Linked DNA regions of Homo sapiens: all the other regions are linked to region 4. Evidence: fine-mapped expression QTL. A gene starts in region 4. Each other region holds a variant in brackets. All regions are shown on one strand. Distances are between the middles of the regions.

The links. PIP is the estimated chance that this variant, and not a neighbour inherited with it, causes the effect.
Region 1: its variant is the best candidate, but not a certain one, in a credible set for the expression of GFRA2 in esophagus muscle (GTEx, PIP 0.89).
Region 2: its variant is the best candidate, but not a certain one, in a credible set for the expression of GFRA2 in whole blood (TOPMed, PIP 0.62).
Region 3: its variant is the best candidate, but not a certain one, in a credible set for the expression of GFRA2 in whole blood (TOPMed, PIP 0.71).

What each region holds. Positions count from the first base shown.
Region 1 is chr8:21,614,345-21,618,976 of GRCh38, forward strand. No RefSeq gene overlaps it. Among named protein-coding and RNA genes, the nearest start is that of GFRA2, 170 kb to the right of the region's middle. The variant C/T (reference allele first, on the strand shown) is at 2,194.
Region 2 is chr8:21,836,617-21,841,248 of GRCh38, forward strand. No RefSeq gene overlaps it. Among named protein-coding and RNA genes, the nearest start is that of GFRA2, 50 kb to the left of the region's middle. The variant C/G (reference allele first, on the strand shown) is at 2,527.
Region 3 is chr8:21,896,791-21,901,422 of GRCh38, forward strand. No RefSeq gene overlaps it. Among named protein-coding and RNA genes, the nearest start is that of DOK2, 15 kb to the right of the region's middle. RefSeq lists enhancers at 272-421, 512-561 and a silencer at 682-741. The variant T/C (reference allele first, on the strand shown) is at 2,354.
Region 4 is chr8:21,787,017-21,791,547 of GRCh38, forward strand. GFRA2 (GDNF family receptor alpha 2) reads right to left here and starts at 1,859. Exons shown (of 9, transcript NM_001495.5): 1 at 1,104-1,859. The coding sequence starts at 1,143.

The DNA.
Region 1 (4,632 bases), 170 kb before region 4:
CTCCAGGCACAGCACACCCGCAGCCAGGGGACATCCACAAAAATGCTTACCTGTGGTACCAGTAACAAGAACACAAATGGCTTGCCGGGTGCCCACACCGCATGTCTCCTGCCACTTTCTGAAGAATGACACCAAGGCAGCAGATATTACGGCCCCCTTGAGTGTGGAGATACTCAAATGGCCTGTGGTCCATGTTCACTCAATGATCTGCCAAGGCCTGTGGAGCCAGGCCTGTCTGCGGCAGACACTGCAAGGGATACGGGATCAGGTGAACCCTCAAGGCTCTCACGGCTCATGGGGAAAAGCAAACATAAACACAACTAACCCCAAGCTACGGCACAGGACAGCAGGGGTCCCCCAGAGAGACAGATGGATTCTACAGGAGAAGAGAGCAATTCCACTGGGGGGTTCCCAGGGGCAGGATGACAGAAGACTTCCCAGAAGAGACCCTGATGCTTGAATCAGATTCCAAAAAGCATAAAGTTTTGTTGAAAGTAACTGTAGCAGAATTGCCAGGAACTCTACAGGACTTTTTTTTTTTTCTTTTTTTTTTTTTTTTTTGAGACGGAGTCTCGCACTGTTTCCCAGGCTGGAATGAAGTGACACGATCTCGGCTCACTGCAACATCTGCCTCCTGGATTCAAACGATTCTCCCGCCTCAGGCTCCTGAGTAGCTGAGATTACAGGTGCCCGCCACCAAGCCTGGCTAGTTTTTTTGTTTGTTTGTTTGTTTGTTTGTTTGTTTTTTAATGGAGATGAGGTTTCACCACATTGGCCAAGATGGTCTCAAACTCCTGACCTCAGGTGATCCGCCCACCTCAGCCTCCCAAAGTGCAGGGATTACAAGTGTGAGCTACCGTGCCTGGCTCTCTATAGGACTTTTGAAGAGACAGGGTGCACTAACCACATTTTCTAGTTTCCGCATTCGATGCTTTGACATCTCGGGGCCTTGCTGATACTGGAGGGCTGCCTCTCCCAGAGCTAGCAAATTCCTGGAGAGAGCGAACCAACCAATCCAGAGTCCACTCCTTTACCACTTACCCCTATCATCTTCTTACACTTCACTCTGGACCTCTCTCTACCTGGCCGACTCACCCCAGGGCCAGGGACCAGACAACTAGGGACAGTCCCTGTGCCACAGAGCTGCTGTAACTATTCAAACTAGCCAGCTCTGGGCCTGAGCTGTCCCAGGGAAACCACTGTAAAGGCTCCTGGCCACGTTTTTCCCTCCCTTCTTCTGCCTTGCGACCACCCCTGGTGCTTCCCTTCTGTGGCCCTGCACGCTGGGCCTCCCTTCTCCTTCCTTCGTGACAGTCATTTCTGTGTCTGGGTCTCATACCATCTCTGACTAAAACCAATCCCAGGTACCCTTAAAACATGGGTCTGCTTCCCTGAGGGAAGGAAGCCTGGTTGGGCTCTATCTGTAGATACCAATCAATGGAAGAAAGATGTCGATTTCTCCATGGGACCAACTCATGAGTAGAGAGGAAACTGTAAGGAAGACAGGCCTAGCCCTGCCTACATTTCAGCATGGTGCAGGAAGAGAGTCCAGGGGATCTGCCAAAGACCTCTTCTAGCTGGGGAACTGCACCAAGCTTAGGGAGATTCCTAACAGAGAGCTCTAAAAGAGAAATCCCACTGGGTCCATTTAAAGGCAACCACGAAAGGCCAAAGTGTTCTGCTTGGGCATCTTCCTAGGAGGAAATGCCATCAAACAGTGAGGGTGAGGACTGGCCCCTCAGTGCCTATGGCGATCTCTGGCATCAGGGACGGCCTTGCTGTTAACCAAATGTGTGCAGTTGAATCCCAAGACACAGGGCCGGGGGAGGCCGCAGAGTTAATAAGCAAAGAGACCCAATCTCTGGGGCCTGTGAAGAGGAGAGGGTTTTACCACTTCACCTGGCTGGAGGCTCAGGTATGTTGTTTCCACAAATCCCTGCAGGCCCCAGCGAGAAAGCCATGGGCAAGATGGGCACAGGAAGGTGGTGGGGACAATGGGTTTGTGCAGGGGGCAGCCAAAAGGATTCCATGCCCAGCACCAGGCCTGACCCCCAGGGGCCACAGGGAGGGGAAGAAAAGGCCCTGTCTCCCCTGCCTTGCACCATGGTCCAGCTGGACTCGAAGGACAATCCCATGAAGTCAGCAGATGGAACAGAGAGCTGCAGGGCAAAGGCTGGAACACTAGGCCAGTCA[C/T]GTTTCTCTAGAGTCAAAGCCACAGCGCTGCTTTTTCCCGCTCCAGCCCCATAGCCAGGAAAAATCGGCCCCTTTGTGCTCTCCAGCTAGAGGTCACTGGGGCATCTCCTCCAAGGCTCTATGTTTGGGGCTTGGACCCAGGGCTTCCTGTTGCCTGGGAGCCATCTGGCTCAACAGATCCCATTGTTTGGGATGGGGACAGGGCTGGAGGCCCTGGGGAAGCACCCAAGGTCTCAAACATTTAAACCGCTACATCCTGCAGCAGTGGCTGTGGCCTCACTCGAGGAGCATTCTTGGGCTCCCTCTGGGGTATCCGCGCAGCAGGCTTTCTTCCATCAGCAGCCAGGGGACACCCATAAAATATGCTCACTGTGCCAGGAATGAGAATAAAAGTGCCTCACTGGATCCCCAAACTTCACACCTCCTATTGTGTTCTCAGTTTAGATTTGCAATAGCCCTGGGAGGCAAGTGTCCAGCACTGCAGGGCTGTGCCATGCTGGGCACCAGGTCTAGCACTCTATGGCCTTGCTTCTTTTGTCTGATCCAGTGCTATCACAAAATTCTTCCCTGCATTCACCCCTACCCTGACCCTCACCATCTACCCCTGCCTCCAACCTCTGTCACAAAGCTTTTCCCTGTACTAGCCTCAAAGCCCAAACTGGACAATGTCTTTGCTATGTCTTTTGGCCTCTGCCCAGTAGGGTGGCCATATGTCCCATATACATAGAACAATCATTCTCTCCATCCCTTGTCCCAGTTTTAATATTAATAGCATTCCCTTTCACCTGCAGCAGCATCTTCTTTTGGAAGATAAATTATTTGACTGGCTTCCCTCATGGGTTACATTCAGAAGTTCCCACCTGCCCTCTACCTATAGAGGTCCTGAAACCTCAGCCCAAAGTGGCACCTCTTCCTGGGCTGGGTGTGGCACTTTCACCGTGCCCAGCCTCACTGGGGAACAGGAACCAGAGGGAAGGCATTATTCCAGTGAACAAATGAGAACACTGAGGTCAGAGAGAATGCAATCTGCCCAAATCACTGAATTTGTTCATAGCAGGACTCAAGACTATATAAGGATTCTATGCTGGATATACTTTCACCAAACCAGGCCATCGTCATGACCGTGCTTCCCACCATATCACAATTGCAGGCTTGGATGCCCTCTTGGGACTTGCCTTGTTGTCTGCCATTGCTCTTGAGTTGTTTCATGTATAATGGATTCTCTTGTCCCAGGTGATAAAGTCACAGAGCCCAAGAGCTGTGTCTTCTCCTTTTCTCAGCCTAGGTACAGAGGATCTGCTCAAGAAATATTTGCAGAATCCATTTGAATGTTGCTGAGTCCTGCAGGTTTAGGAAACTCTCCAGAAGTGTGGCAAGACTTCTTCAACACTGATGTGATATTGAGTGGTGAGAAGGATGCTCTCTCTAAACTGCTTTTCAGCTCTTCTGCCATGACCTGTCCAGGCTGTCTGCACCAAGGCCACATATGGAGAAGACCCACCCCCACCAAAAAGACCAAGAACCCACCATGGAGGGAAGAGCTTCATGGACAGTAGCATGGCCAGTTGCATGGAGAAAGGTCCTAGGCCTGCATTCTAGATTTATGTCAACATCCCAAATCTATGCCAAGACTGGACAACTGGTGTCAACTTTTGAGACAGACCACTGGGATCATGCCCCCTCTCTCTCCACCCACCATAGTTTATACAAAAATAACTGATGCAGTGAAACAACATGTAGACCTCCCAGCTTTCTCTACTTAATCCCCACTGGGTATGAGGCCTTGGGAAACGCTTCCCTCCTCTGATCCTTAGGTTCCTCATCTGTAAATGAGAGCACTGGACTAGATCAGTGCTGCCCAGTGGAAATGTCATGTGAGCCATGGATAAAATTTTAAACTTTCTAGTAGCCACATTAAAAAGCGGGGGGGAAGGTGTGGAATTAATCTTAATAATGTATATCATGAACATCATATATACCAGGAGTCCCCAACCCCCAGGCCACAGACTGGTACCTGTCCAGGGCCTATTAGGAACCAGGCTGCACAGCAGGAGGTGGGCAGCAGGTGAGTGAGTGAAGCTTCATCTGTATTTACACCCGCGCCCCATCACCTGCATTACCACTTGAGCTCGCCCCCTGTTAGATCATCAGCAGCATTAGACTCTCATAGGAGCGTGAACTCTATTGTGAACTGCGCGTGTGAGGGATCCAGGTTGCATACTCCTTATGAGAATCTAATGCCTGATGTCACTGTCTCCCATCACCCACAGATGGTACTGTCTAGTTGCAGGAAAACAAGCTCAGGGCTCCCACTGAGTCTACATTATGGTAAGTTGTATAATTATTTCATCATATAATGTAATAAGAATAGAAACAAAGTACTCAATAAATATAATGCACTTGAATCATCCTGAAACCATCCCTCACCCCATCTGTGGA
Region 2 (4,632 bases), 50 kb after region 4:
TTTCGAGACCCAGACTCTTCTGTGAGCCATGCAAGGCCCCCACTTTCCTTAGCCAGCCGCATTTCTCATATTCCCCACAGCATATCCCCCACCCTGCCGGCAGCCCTCTCACTTTACCCCCATCAATGTCCTTCTTTCTTTTGTAACTTTTTTTTATTTTACTTTAAGTTCCGGGATACATGTGCAGAACGTGCAGGTTTGTTACATAGCTGTAAATGTGCCATGGTGGTTTGCTGCACCTATCAACCCATCATCTAGGTTTTAAGCCCCGCATGCATTAGGTATTTGTTCTAATGTTCTCCCTCCCCTTGCCCCCACCCCCCGAACAGGCCCCACTGTGTAATGTTCCCCTCCCTGTGTCCATGTGTTCTCCACTGTTCAACTCCTACTTATGAGTGAGAACGTGCAGTGTTTGATTTTCTGTTCCTGTGTTAGTTTGCTGAGAATGATGGTTTCCAGCTTCATCTATGTTCCTGCAAAGGACATGATCTCATTCTTTCTTATGGCTGCATAGTATTCCATGGTGCATATGTGCCACATTTTCTTTATCCAGTCTATCATTGATGGACATTTGGGTTGGTTCCAAGTCTTTGCTATTGTAAACAGTGCTGCAATACACACGTGTGCATGTGTCTTTCTAGTAGAATGATTTATAATCCTTTGGGTATATACCCAGTAATGGGATTGCTGTGTCAAATGCTATTTCTAGTTCTAGATCCTTGAGGAATCGCCACACTGTCTTCCACAATGGTTGAACTAATTTACACTCCCACCAACAGTGTAAAAGCATTACTGTTTCTCCATAGACTTGTCAGCATCTGTTGTTTTCTGAAATGTCCTTTTTTTTTTTTTTTTTTTTTTTTGAGGCAGAGTCTCGCTATGTCGCCAGGCTGGAGTGCAGTGGCAAGATCTCAGCTCACTGCAACCTCTGCCTCCCAGGTTCAAGCGATTCTCCCACCTCAGCCTCCCGAGTAGCTGAGATTACAGGCACACACCACCACGCCCAGCTAATTTTTGTATTTTCAGTAGAGACGGGGTTTCACCATGTTGGCCAGGATGGTCTCGATTTCCTGACCTCGTGATCCTCCTGCCTCAGCCTCCCAAAGTGCTGGCATTACAGGCGTGAGCCACCACACCCAGCTGAAATGTCCTTATTTCTAAACTCGCTCCAGCTGTCCCCACCTGAGGTCCTCCCTCCTTCCCTCTGCCCACCCTATCCTGCCTCAGAGCCTGCCCTAAACACAGCAGCTCCTACAGGACGCCGGGAAAGAAATGATTTCACTCCAAGGCGCTGAGCACAGGCTGTGTCACTTAACAGCGGCTTGAGTTCAGACAAGCCTCTCAATGACTCTGGGCCTGTTTCTACCCCCAGACCCTTCAAACATGGAGACAATACCTTTCTCCCAGATTGGTGAGGATTAAATGATATCAGGCACATGAAAGAATCTGCCACCCAGTAAACTCCCAATAAATGTGTGTCCTCCAGATATCTGATCTTCTGTTCCCTGAATCCACTTCTATTTATGGCCGGCACTGGGCGTAATTGTTTCATTCTGTTGGCTTCGTCTCCCCAGACTGAACTTCTTGAGCAATGGAAAGGGTTTGGGGTTTCTCTGGAATCTCCCACAGCACCTGGCACAGCTTTGAGTCAGTAAAGAACTGATGCCTGGAACGAACACCATGGTGATGCCCTTAGGTGTGTATTTCAAATGGGAGAAGCAGGCCCTGTGTCCCTGTGGTCACCTCCCTGGTCTGCTTACCCACGGGCTGGGGCCTTAAGGGAGGGGTAAGGCCGGCCTGGCTCCTGCAGGCCTTGGACACATGGGGAGGGGGCAGTAATGGAATGAGAGGCCCCGAGATCCAATTCCATAATGATTACGGTGAGAGGGACAAACTCCAGAGGCCAATTGTTGGGTGTAATTGGAGTGAACAGCAAATCGCAATTGGCCAAGAGCCCTGAGGTCAGACAGGCTGGGCCCATCCAGGTCCAGGAGGACCCTGTGGTCGGCCAGGCAGAAGAAGATCTCTCTCCATTAGGTCCTGGCAGGGGAGGGTGAGCAGGCTGGTCTGTATCATCTGGGTGGAGCGGCTGAGTGGATGTGACATAATTGAATGAGGCCTCTGCGTCTTCCACCCAGAGCGGGGGAATTAGCAGGCCCGACCCTCGCCTCGGGAGACCGCACTCCCCCTCATCTGCCTGCATTGCTCCACTCCACACCGCCTGCTCAGGGTGGGGTGGGAGTGCCAGGAAACGGCTCAGGCCAGGTCTGTTGTGGGAAAGAGGGGGCACAGGAAGACGGGCACAAGGAGCCGGGCTCAGGCGGGAAAGTCCCGGGGGTCTGTGGGGAGGGGGTGATAGTGATGGGCCGGGGGCGGGGGTCCATAGGACTAGCGTTTGCCAGACAGATGGCAAGGAGAAACCCAGAGCAAGGAGGGAGGATGGGATGGAGGCGGGGAGAGATGGAGCCAGGCACACAGCAGAGATGGGAACAAGATAGACAGGGAGATAACATGACAGCGGCCAGA[C/G]ACACAGGACGAGCTGAGCGATGGCGAAGAAGAGGGGCAGATAAAGAGAGGCTTATTAAGAAAGACTGATCAGCAGCCCGAGGAATAGGCAGACAGGGAGACAGGAGCTTCATGGAACATAGGCCTGAACCCTCCCTGACCGGGGCAGCCACACCTTCTCTGCACTTACGGGGCACTATTCTGAATATGCCACATTGTCTCACTGAATCTGCCCAGCACCCTTACGGAATTGGTAATGATTTCTTACAGATGGAGAAACTGAGGCTGGAGAGGATAAGTCACCTGCCCAGGGCCACCCAGCTAGAAAACAAAGGAGACAGAAGGTGAGCCCCACTGGAGCTGGTTTCCTGGCCCCACCCTTGCCCTGCACCAGCAAAGTCTTTCTTGGTTTAGCTGCAGAGGAATCTCTCAGCCTAGCCGCCTCCCTAGGATGAATGGATACAGAGGACTTCCTGGTGGCTGTGGGAGTTCAAGTGGTCAGAAGACTGTCTTTTTTTTTTCTTTTTGTTTTGTTTGGTTGGTTTTTTGTTTGTTTGTTTTGTTTTGTTTTGTTGAGACAGAGTCTCACTCTGTTGCTCAGGTTGGAATGCAATGGCAAGATCTCGGCTCACTGCAACCTCTGCCTCCAGGGTTCAAGCGATTCTCCTGCCTCAGCCTCCTGAGTAGCTAGGATTACAGGCGTGCACCACCTAATTTTTGTATTTTTACAAAATACAAAAATACAAAAATTAGCGCCCAGCTAATTTTTTTAGTAGAGACAGAGTTTCACCATGTTTGTCAGGCTGGTCTCGAACACCTGACCTTGTGATCCACCTGCCTTGGCCTCCCAAAATGCTGGGATTACAGGCGTGCACCACTTTATTTTTGTATTTTTACAAAATACAAAAATTAGCGCCCAGCTAATTTTTTTAGTAGAGACAGAGTTTCACCATGTTTGTCAGACTGGTCTCGAACACCTGACCTTGTGATCCACCTGCCTTGGCCTCCCAAAATGCTGGGATTACAGGCGTGAGCCACTGCACCTGGTCTTTGTTTGTTTGTTTGTTTGTTTTTAACCTTTTCTGGTCTCAGTTCCCTACCCCTAGGGCCCCTGGCACTGCCCCTTACCACCTGCACTGGCCTCTCCAACACTCAGTCAGCCACTGGGGAATCTAATGCATGCACTAATGTCACTTTAAAGTATGGCCTCTGCCATGGGTAATTACTTTTAATTGGGGTCTCCAGGTGTAATAGGGGAGACATTTGAGGGGGCAGGAAGGCCTTCCCTGTACCTTTCTAATCCAATGTGGGAAGATTCCTCCTGTACTGATTCATCAAGCCAGTCCTGGCTGTGTGACTGGCTTCATCCAAGCAGGGAGAAAAGATGTCTGGGTACCCATCACCTATTGCCTTTGTTTTTTGTTTGTTTGTTTGAGATCATGTCTCACTCTGTCGCCCAGGCTGGAGTGCAGTGGCACAATCTCAGCTCACTGCAACCTCCACCTCCCAGGTTCAAGCAATTCTCCTGCCTCAGCCTCCCAAGTAGATGGGATTACAGGCACCCACCACCACAGCCCGCTAATTTTTTTTTTTTTTGTATTTTTAATAGAGACGGGGTTTCTCCATATTGGCCAGGCTGGTGTCGAACTCCTAACCTCAAGTGATCAGCCTGCCTTGGCCCCCCAAAGTGCTGGGATTACAGACATAAGCCACCGCACCCAGCCACCCATTGCCTTTGTGAACCCTATCCAAACTCCCATGGAATATTCCCAGCCACAGGCACCAACTTGGAAAGTTCTGCCAGCCAGACCAAGCTCTCCCCAGGAACAGGGACCTTGCCTTGGGTGGGGACCACCAAGCAACTGCTCCCATTCCCCAAAGAAGCTCCCCTGTCCTCCCTGGCTGCCAGCTGTCAGGGTTCAGAGGGGCTTCAGGCTGGGACATCACCCATCTAGGTGGCTGCTGTGCACTCTCTGACCCAGCCAGGCCTGCTGCCCTGCCCACTGCCTCCCCAGCACCCTGGGGAGGTGAGAGGAAGTGCCAGCGTCAGCTTATAGACAGCTGTGCCCAGGAGCCCTGAAGGAAGGTGAGAGCTGTTTCACCTTCACGGGCAGTAGCTGCCTAACA
Region 3 (4,632 bases), 110 kb after region 4:
CCATGCAGGACTCTGAAGGATGATCAAGACTTACGATTCAATAGAGGTACACGACTTCCACTCTCATCCCAGGATCTTATTTTAAGCCATGTGACAATCCCATAAGGTCTACCCCATGTTTCTAAACCTATGTGACAGATGAGAGACCCCAGCTCAGAGCAGTGAGGTGACTTGCCTAACGTAGCACAGCTGTCAGGGAAGAGTCCCTGGAGTTAGTTCTCTTGCCACTGTCCCTTGGAAGTCTTCATGTCACAAACGAAGGAATCTCCCCTCGGGACCGTAACAAGCAGCATGGCCAGCAGGCAGCCTGGCATGCTGGGAAGGGCTTGGCCAAGTCCCAGCTCAGCCACTTAGGAGCCCCGGCAGCCTGGAGCCAGTCATCCAGTTTCTGCGAGCTCAGTTTCCTCATCTGCAGAACACAAAGAACATCCATGCCTTTCCAGAAAGGAACAAAGGAAAACATGGAGTGTTCTGGATCCTAAGAAGTCCAGTGCCCCAGGAGGGGTCAAGACCACTGCACCCCCAGGAGATCCCCATACCCAGTATTTGGGACAATGTGACATGCTGTAACAAGGCAGTCTCTGCGGCTAACTGTGGTTTCCGTAAACAGAAGCTGCTTTCTCACTTCCTCCTGTAACGGAGACCCCTATGTCCATGACTCCCTGTGTAAAAGGAACAAAGAGAGGATGGGTGCGGTGGCTCACGCCTGTAATCCAGCACTTTGGGAGGCCGAGGTGGGCGGATCACTTGAGGTCAGCAGTTTGAGACCAGCCTGGCCAATGTGGTGAAACCCGTCTCTACTAAAAATACAAAAATTATGTGGGCATGGTGGCATACACCTGTAATCAAAGGATCTCGGGAGGCTGAGGCAGAAGAATCACGTAAAGCCAGGATGCAGAGGTTGCAGTGAGCCAAGATCGTGCCACTGCACTCCAATCTGGAAGACAGAGCAAGACTCCATCTCAAAAAAAAAAAAAAAGTAACAAAGAGGACCAGGCCAAATGGCTGAGAGGAGAGACAAGGAAGAAAGCTACATGAAGCGGGCAGGGCTCAGTTCAGGGATGATTCATGCTTGGAGACAGACGTTTCTGGTAGCTGAAGGAGGTGAGCCTGGCTGGGACCCAGCCCAGGTGAGACACAGCCAAGTGAGGACGGGAGGGAGAAGAGGCAGCTGAACTGGGAGATGGCTCTAAGACCAGCTTCCCAGGAAGAGTGAAGCTGGATTTTACAGCCACTTGCAGGCGCCTGCTAATGAAGGAAACTAGTCCATGAAAAATGCCTCCCAGGTATTTGTGGCTGTCCCCAGGGGCTGGCTCTGTGTCTTCTGGCACTGGTGCCATGTCCACTGAGACCACTGCTTCTACACTTCACTGGGTGTTCAGTGGGCGCCACCAACTCCCAAACTCCTGAGGCTGACAGTGCTTGGCACCCTGTAGCAAAGTGATGAAACTGTCCCATTCCCTGCTCTGTTTCAACCTCAACTAGATGAATGCCCAAATGTGCAGTGTGTGCCCAAAGGCCTTAAGAACTCTAAGTGAAAGAGGCGTGTTGAGAGATAAGTCCTAGAGATAGATGCCCAGAGGTAACTCCACTGTGCTCTAATGGTGCCACCTGGACTCGTGCAGTGCACAGCCTGTGCAGCTGTCCATGGTGTCCCAGTAGACACTATACCATCCTCAAAGCACCTCATCTACCTGACAGCTTGCTCTTTTGCCTTGGTCAAGTTTCTCATGCTTGCCTAAGCCCTCATTATAAATGGTGTCTCCTAAATTTACTCATTGCTCAAGCTGCATAAGCTTGCACAGAAAACCTGCAGTGCTATCTCCTTGCTTTAGGGTAAGTTCTGTCCCAGGGAGCTCCACTGCCCCTCATGCTACTGGACCCACCCTACCATTGCTCTGGACATAGCCGAATCCCAGAAGAGAGCCCCACAAGGTTTCAGTTAAGCCTTTGAACCTATATTTTCCTCATTCCCTCTTGGCAAAGTCATTCCTGCTGACTTGCTATCCTGACAATTTCCCCCAAACAAAAGACTATATAGCATTAATGGGAATTTTGAAGGTCTCCTGATCCAGGCCTATCATTCTGCAGATGGGAGAATAAGGCCCAGAGACGGAAGAGACTTGCTGGACGGCCCATGGCCAGTTAGTGGCAGACCTGGGATTAGAGCTCCTAATTTAGTTCCCTGTCTAGTGTCCATTGTCACGGACCTGCAGAGGTTATGGGTTGATGAACAAGCCACAATGTCCAAGCACATTGCCCTCTGCCCTACTGCTGGCCTCACCTGCCTTCCCCATCAAAGAAGTCAAAGACCAGCCTGGCCAACATGGTGAAACCCCATCTCTACTAAAAA[T/C]ACAAAAATTAGCCAGGCGTAGTGGCAGGCACCTGTAATCCCAGCTACTTGGGAGGCTGAGGCAGAAGAATCTGGGATTGAACCTGGGAAGTGGAGGTTGCAGTGAGGTGAGTGAGATCGCACCACTGCACTCCAGCCTTGGGTGACAGAGCAAGACTCCATCTAACAAAAAAAAAAATGTCAAAGGTGACTTTCTTTTTAGGAGGCAGCTCTATTTTGTCTGCTGGGGAACAGGGCCCTGTGCTGGGCCAGCCAAGCCAGAAGTCAGGACCAAGAGAAGAGAGATTGGCTGTCTGGAGGGTCTGATAATAACTGAAGATCCGAATGCGCTGCAGAGAGCTGGCCCCGTCTCTGCTATAGGTTCAGGCTGGGTTTGCCGAGTGTGGCTGGTCAATTCGGCCCAAGTGGCCCTGAGGGCCCCAGACCCTGAATGTCTGGCTCTGGACACCAGTCCTTACTTCCCGCAAGGCTCATCTCCAGCCTGCCAGGCCTGCCCACAAAAGCCTACTGAGTGCTCTGTGTCCAGTCCACCCTGGCTGGCCATGCTTCTGTGAGTCCTCAACCCCTCCTCCATCCCCACCTCCTACCCCAGAGCTAGCCAAGTTCCCATTCTCTTTCAGCCAACAGTCTTTGAGAAAACCAAATTTTTTCTCATTGCTTCTTAGCCATAATCCCCAGGTTCAGACAAACCGATTTTTTTTTTTTTTGAGACGGAGTTTTGCTCTTGTCACCCAGGCTGAAGTGCAATGGTGGGATCTCAGCTCACTGCAACCTCCACTCCCCAGGCTCAAGCGATTCTCCAGCCTCAGCCTCCAGAGTAGCTGGTATCACAGGCATGCGCCACCACGCCTGGCTAATTTGTATTTTTAGTAGAGATGGGGTTTCACCATCTTGGCCAGGCTGGTCTTGAACTCCCTGACCTTAGGTGATCTGGCCACCTTGGCCTCCGAAAGTGCTGGGATTACAGGCATGAGCCATTGCACCCAGCCAGACAAATCAGTCTTGCAGGCAGTTTGGCAGGGCTGGAACCTGGCTTAAGTAACTACTCCAGCAACCTCTTGAGGCTTCTCCTTGCCCTGTGACCCAGCAGGATCATCTTGTCCCAGCTGCCCTCCCTCGAGCCATTTCTAGATGACCCTTCATCACCATGGAACCTCTGGTTCCTTTCCTAGACGCCATCTCTGGTTGTTCTTTTGTGTGTCCACTCCTTCCCCTTCAACCAGACCCATCCCAGTTCACTTCTTCATCCCATCAGCCCTGAGCCTGTATGGCCTTGTGCATACTCATGGGCCAAATGGTTCTTATTTGTAGGTGGAAGCAGGAATTGGAGCCCAGAGTTGGCCACTGCACCTTACTCTGAAGTTGCCTGCTAGGGAAAGCTACCCCTCAGGGATCAACGTCAATGGTAACATAGGGGGAGTAGTCATCAGAGGAGGATGGAAAGAGAATAAGTCCGCAGAGCTTTCCTTCCACCATGGGCAGCAAGGTAACCAGCAGGAAAAGAGCAGCTCAGCCTCAGCTGCCTGTAATTAACTCACTCCCCAATGAATTTGCTCAGAGCCATGCAGTGATGATCTTAGGGAGGGGAAGAAACCCTTACTCAGTGATAGTAGCCCTTGCAGGAAGGTAGAACAGGGAATCAGAAATCTCCTTCCCTTTTGCTCTCCCTCACTTGCATAAAAGATCAAAAACTATCTCCCACTGGCTGAGCATGGTGGCTCACACCTGTAATCCCTGCACTTTGGGAGGCCGAGGTGGGTGGATCACCTGAGGTCAGGGGTTCGAGACCAGCCTGGCCAACGTGGCAAAACCCCCTCTCTACTAAAAACACAAAAATTAGCTGGGTGTGGTGGTGCATGCCTGTAATCCCAGCTACCTGGGGGTGCTAAGGCAGGAGAATTGCTTGAACTGGGAGGCGGAGATTACAGTGAGCCGAGATTGTACCACCTCATTCCATTCTGGGCAACAGAGTGAGACTGCCTCAAAAAAAAAAAAAGGAAAAAGGAAAAAAAAAAAAAATCTCCCTGTGGATGCAGGAAGCCTTGACTTTGGTGATTGAGTCCTTTCCCTGAAGCACAACCATAAACAAATTCTCATAAAATGTAAAACACCTGAGAGGGATTTAAAAATCAACTTGGCCTCAGTTTCCATAAGTACAAAAATAAGGCCTCAGGCTGAAGTGCTATTAGGACCTTTCTGGATCAGACATCATGCTCCTTGAAATCTCCATGATGAGGAGTTTCTCAGCCCCTGGGGCTTCCAGAAGGCCCCAGCCACTG
Region 4 (4,531 bases):
GTAGTTACCCGGCTCCCTCTATGGGAGCGTCTACTCCCTGGCAGCAGCCCTGCCTGGGACTCCCGGTGGTGCACAGCCTTGCAAACAACCGCCTTTCCTCACCTCCCTCCGGAGATTGCCATTTCCCAAGCAGCTGCGATTTCACCTAGCTTTAAAGGGAGAGAGGAGCTGGGAATTCTGTGTGGAAAAGAAACTGCGTGGGGCTCAGTGGCGCCAGGCAGCCTCTCCTCCCTGTCTTGGAGGCGGCGGGGGGGGCAGTGGGGGGGGTTTGCAGAAGGAGCAGTGGTCTTTGTTCAGACCCGTTTTTCCTCCCTCGCCTCCCACCCTCTTCAACGGAGAAAGCAAACTTTGGCCTCCCTCCCGCCTCTTCCCACCAGCCACGGGGGTCCGCGGCCCCCAGAGGTGGAGGAGGGAAGGCCGGGAACGGCTGCTCACAACCCTCCGCTCCCGCCCACCCATCTGGCTCGGGGCTCGGTGGGGAGAAACTTGAAAAGTGTTCCGGGGAGTGGAGCCGCCGGTTAGGGGCTCAGGGCGTGGGGACGCGGGCTCCGTTTGCCAGGCGCGGCTGGCAGGTGGGGAGTGACTGCCAGCGCTCCCCGCGCGATGTCCAAGCGGGAGCCGCCGGAGAAACCCGCGCCCTCCACCACGACCGACTCGGGGAGCAGACCAGGAAAGGCGGACCCCGCAGGACTGTTCTCTCCCCGCCTAGGAGCCTCTCTCTCCCTCCCTTCTTGCAGATCAAGAGTTGGATATTTTTTTTTCTTAAGTTGCCGCAATTCGAACCCATTATTTCGGGGGAGATGCGCGCTATACTGGCGTGTGAGCGAGCGCGGGTGTGTGTGTGCGTGCACAGTGTCTGCGGGGCTGGTTCGGATGTTGAGTCTCCCTCCCGATCCCCCTGCGTCGCCAGCCAGCCGCGGCTCCGGTCCCTCGTCCGCGTCCCTGCCGCCCGGCCCCGCTCGGTTCGCCAGCACCGGGCCCGGCTAGCTCCGCGGCGCGCTCTCCCCGCCGACCTCCCGCCAGCCCCCCACCGGCGCTCCGCTCGCCCCCCGCCTCCCCGGCTTCTCGCCTCCCCCTCGAGCTCGCCGCCCGCAGGTACTCACCTAGAAAGAAGAAGAGGCAGAAGACGTTTGCCAAGATCATGTTAAATAAATCCCACCGTTTTTTTGTCTTTCTCCCTTGGGTAAAAAAAAATAATAGTAGTAACAACAACAATAATAATAGGCAAGCAGTGGTAATCAGCCCCAAATCCAATGCGGAGATCCCAGCTAGTCCACCCGATGAAGATCCCGAGTCCTGCGATTCTCGCCTCTGGCTGGAGGGGGTGGGGTGAGAGGCGGGCGATGGGCTGCTGCCTCTCGACGCCCCCCTTGCCCGCTACAATCAAATATACGCGTATCTGTGTATCGGCTTTCTAAGCCAACAGCCCAGTCCTGGGGTCAGCCCTCCCCTCCAATCGTCCGGGAAGGCGTGAGTCCCCGCGGGTCCAATTCCCCTGCGCTTCCCAGGAGGGGCCTGGGGAGGTGGGGAGAGAGGCGATTTGCGAGTGAAGGGCTGGAAGGAAGCGGCGAGGGAGGGGGTCGGAATAAAATGCAAATAGAAAAGAAATCCACAGACGGGTGTCAGCGCCCAAGAACAATCCAGTCGGAGCTTCGAGGACGAGAGACTGGAGTCGCTTCTTTCGCACCAAGACGAAGACAAGATTCAAAAAAATCTTCTCCCGCTAACCCTTGCTCGGCTCACTTTTTTCTAATGGAATTCCAGTGACCGTGTGTCTCTGCGTGCGTGTGTCTTTCTCTCTCCTCTCTCTCTCTCTCCTCTCCCTCGCTCGCTCTTTGCTCTCGCTCTCTCCAGCTCTCCCTCGCTCTCCTCTCTCCCTCCCCCTTCTCCCACTCTCCCTGCTCCTCCCTCCGCCCGCCCCCTTCTCCCTTCGCGGCTCCCTCGCCCGGGCTCTCGCGCCAGCGCCCCTCTCCTCCGCCCCGGGCTCGGCGCTCGGGCTCCCAGGCGGCTGGCGGCGCGGGGCGCGGGGCGCGGGAGCGCGGCGGAGCTACGATGCTCTGCAGCGGCGGCGGCGACAAGGCGAAGGCGGTGGCGGTGGCGGTGGCGGCGGCGGCGGCGCCGGGGATCGCGGGCCGAGAGGAGAGCCCAGCCGCCGGCTCCCTCGGCTCAATCGCCCGCCCTTCCTGGGACTGACCTGCTGCCTTGGCCGGAAACTGACTGGCTCCCCCGGCTACGGCTCGGGCTCGAACCCACTCAAGCGTCGGCACCCTCCTCCTCCTCCCCCCGCAGCTCTCCCCACCCTGGGGACCGGCTGCGCCCTCCAACCCCCACTGCCCCTGCCCCCGCCCCCTGCGCCGCTGGGTCTGGGAAGCCTGGGGAGCTGAGCTGAGGCTGGAGGGCGCGGAGTCCGTGGGGCCCGAGCCATCCGGGGGCTCGGGGGGCAGGGCGTTAGAAAAACCCCAGCCGGTGGCCCGGGTCTGAGGGGGGCTCCACCCTCCGTGGGCTAAGGCGTCCCTGCGCCCAGGAGCCGAGGCCGACAAAGCGTCTCCCCGATGGTGCCAGGGAAAGGAATTATCCCCTTCGGCGCCGGCCCCGCGCGCCCCCGAACCCAACGCATCCTGCCGGCCCCGGCCTAGCCCCGCGCGCACATACACGTGTGCTCTCCGCGCGGACCTCGGGAACTTTGCCCTCACGCCCGCGGCGCGCTTGCCTCCCGCCCGCCCCGGCCTCCACCCCTTCGAGATGCCCCTTCCCCAGCCGGTCTCCCCTCCCCCCGGCTCGGGAAGAAGCCTGCTGGGCCAGGGCGCCCTGACCACCTCCTCGGAGGCCGGCAAACCTGCCTGAACCGCCCCAGAGGAATCGGGCAGGGGCTCGCACCCCACCCCGGCAGGAGGGCCCCGAGACCGACCCGGGCCGGGGCTCCGCAGCCGGCTGGGCTCCGAGGAGCTCGTCCCGAGGCAGCTCCCGGCTCCCTAGGCTCCGGGGTTGGGGGGTTCCTCCTCCCCTAGCCGGGAAGGGGGCGATTGATCCATCTGTCGGTGGGCCGGGCTCACCGGCGTGTTTTAGTCGCAGAATTTACAATAAACGCCCAGAAGGACCTAAAAGGAAGCGTCTGGCTGGGAAAGGGCTGGAGGAGAGGTGCGGCTGCGGTCACGTTCCGGCGAGAGCGGGAGAGGCGCGGGGTCGCGGTCGCGCGAGGGCTCACACCCACGCAGCCCGGCATCCCCCGGCCCTCGCGCCACGTTCCTCGCACTCAGCTCGGCGCGCACACACGGTGTCCTGGGGTGGGGTACACGCAGCGCCTCAGAAACTTTTCGTGCTGCCCAAAACAATCTGGGCTGCACGTAACATGAATTTGATAGTACCGTTTAAGATGCATTCTTAAATAACAAGACTCTGGAATCCAGTAAATGCTAGAAATCGACTTGGACGAGAAGGGAGGGGTCACTAACAAAACCAGCAGCCTTAGCTATTGGGAAAGCTAGAGGGAGCAACTTCCATCTTGAGGATTTAGGCGGGAAGGCGGCTGCTCCCGGCCTTGGAAGCACAGAGAGCGAGTCTCCTGTGAACGCCTCTTTCCTGTGGTCCGTCCTGGGGCATCGACCTTCCTCCCTCCATCTTCTCCCCCAGCCATCCAGTTGTGCCTGCTTCGAGCCTAGGCCCTAGCTGGGTAGTGACGAGTCTGGGACAGAGGGCTTAGGGATTGGAGTTGGGGAAAGCCCCCTTCAGGCCTGCCCTCCCTGTCATTCCTCCAAGCCTCTCATGTTCTAGGAAGTGACTTCGCATCTGACAAGGTCTCTTGGCTTTTTTTCCAAAAATTGGGGAGCATAAGGAACCGGCTTTGGATAAGTGTAGGTTAAAAGATAAAACTTGACAGGAATTACACTGCCAGGCAGGCTTGGCCTGGAGGCCCGAGGCTGGGAGCCTGGCCTAAATGAATGTCCCCCCTCTCATCTCCTCGACTTCCAGGGTCTTCTGGTTGTCCAAATACTCCCCACCACCACCCATTTCGGAATCTCACGCAGGCCTTCCCCCTTCCAAGGACCCTGCTCCAAACTCCAGAATTTCTGCTCAGCATATCCCTCTCCCCTTCCCCACAAAAAAGAATTTCACTTTCTTTTAACTTCATTTGAGCATAATGAGAGAAATTCTCTGAATCATATATGTAGTTCTCCCCTCCCACCTATCCAGAAAATGGGGCTGAGAAAGCAGCAATGAAGCCCTGGGGATGGTTCTCACTGAGCTCCCACGGGAGTAGGAAAGAGGATTCCGGTAGCAGGAGGTAAGTGGCCCTTCTGCGACCCAAGACCACCCAGCCATCCCAAGAACAGTAGAGAACACCAATCAGTCACCACCAGCATTCAGCTTGTGTGACTGCAGGGCACTCTGACCTTGGACCCTCTCTTACCTACTGCCTATACAGACGTATCCCATGACACCCCACCCTCTGCCCACCCCAACACTCAACCCAAACTGCTCTTAAAAATGGCATCATCCCTTATTTCCTGAGCATCTGCCATGAGGAAGACCC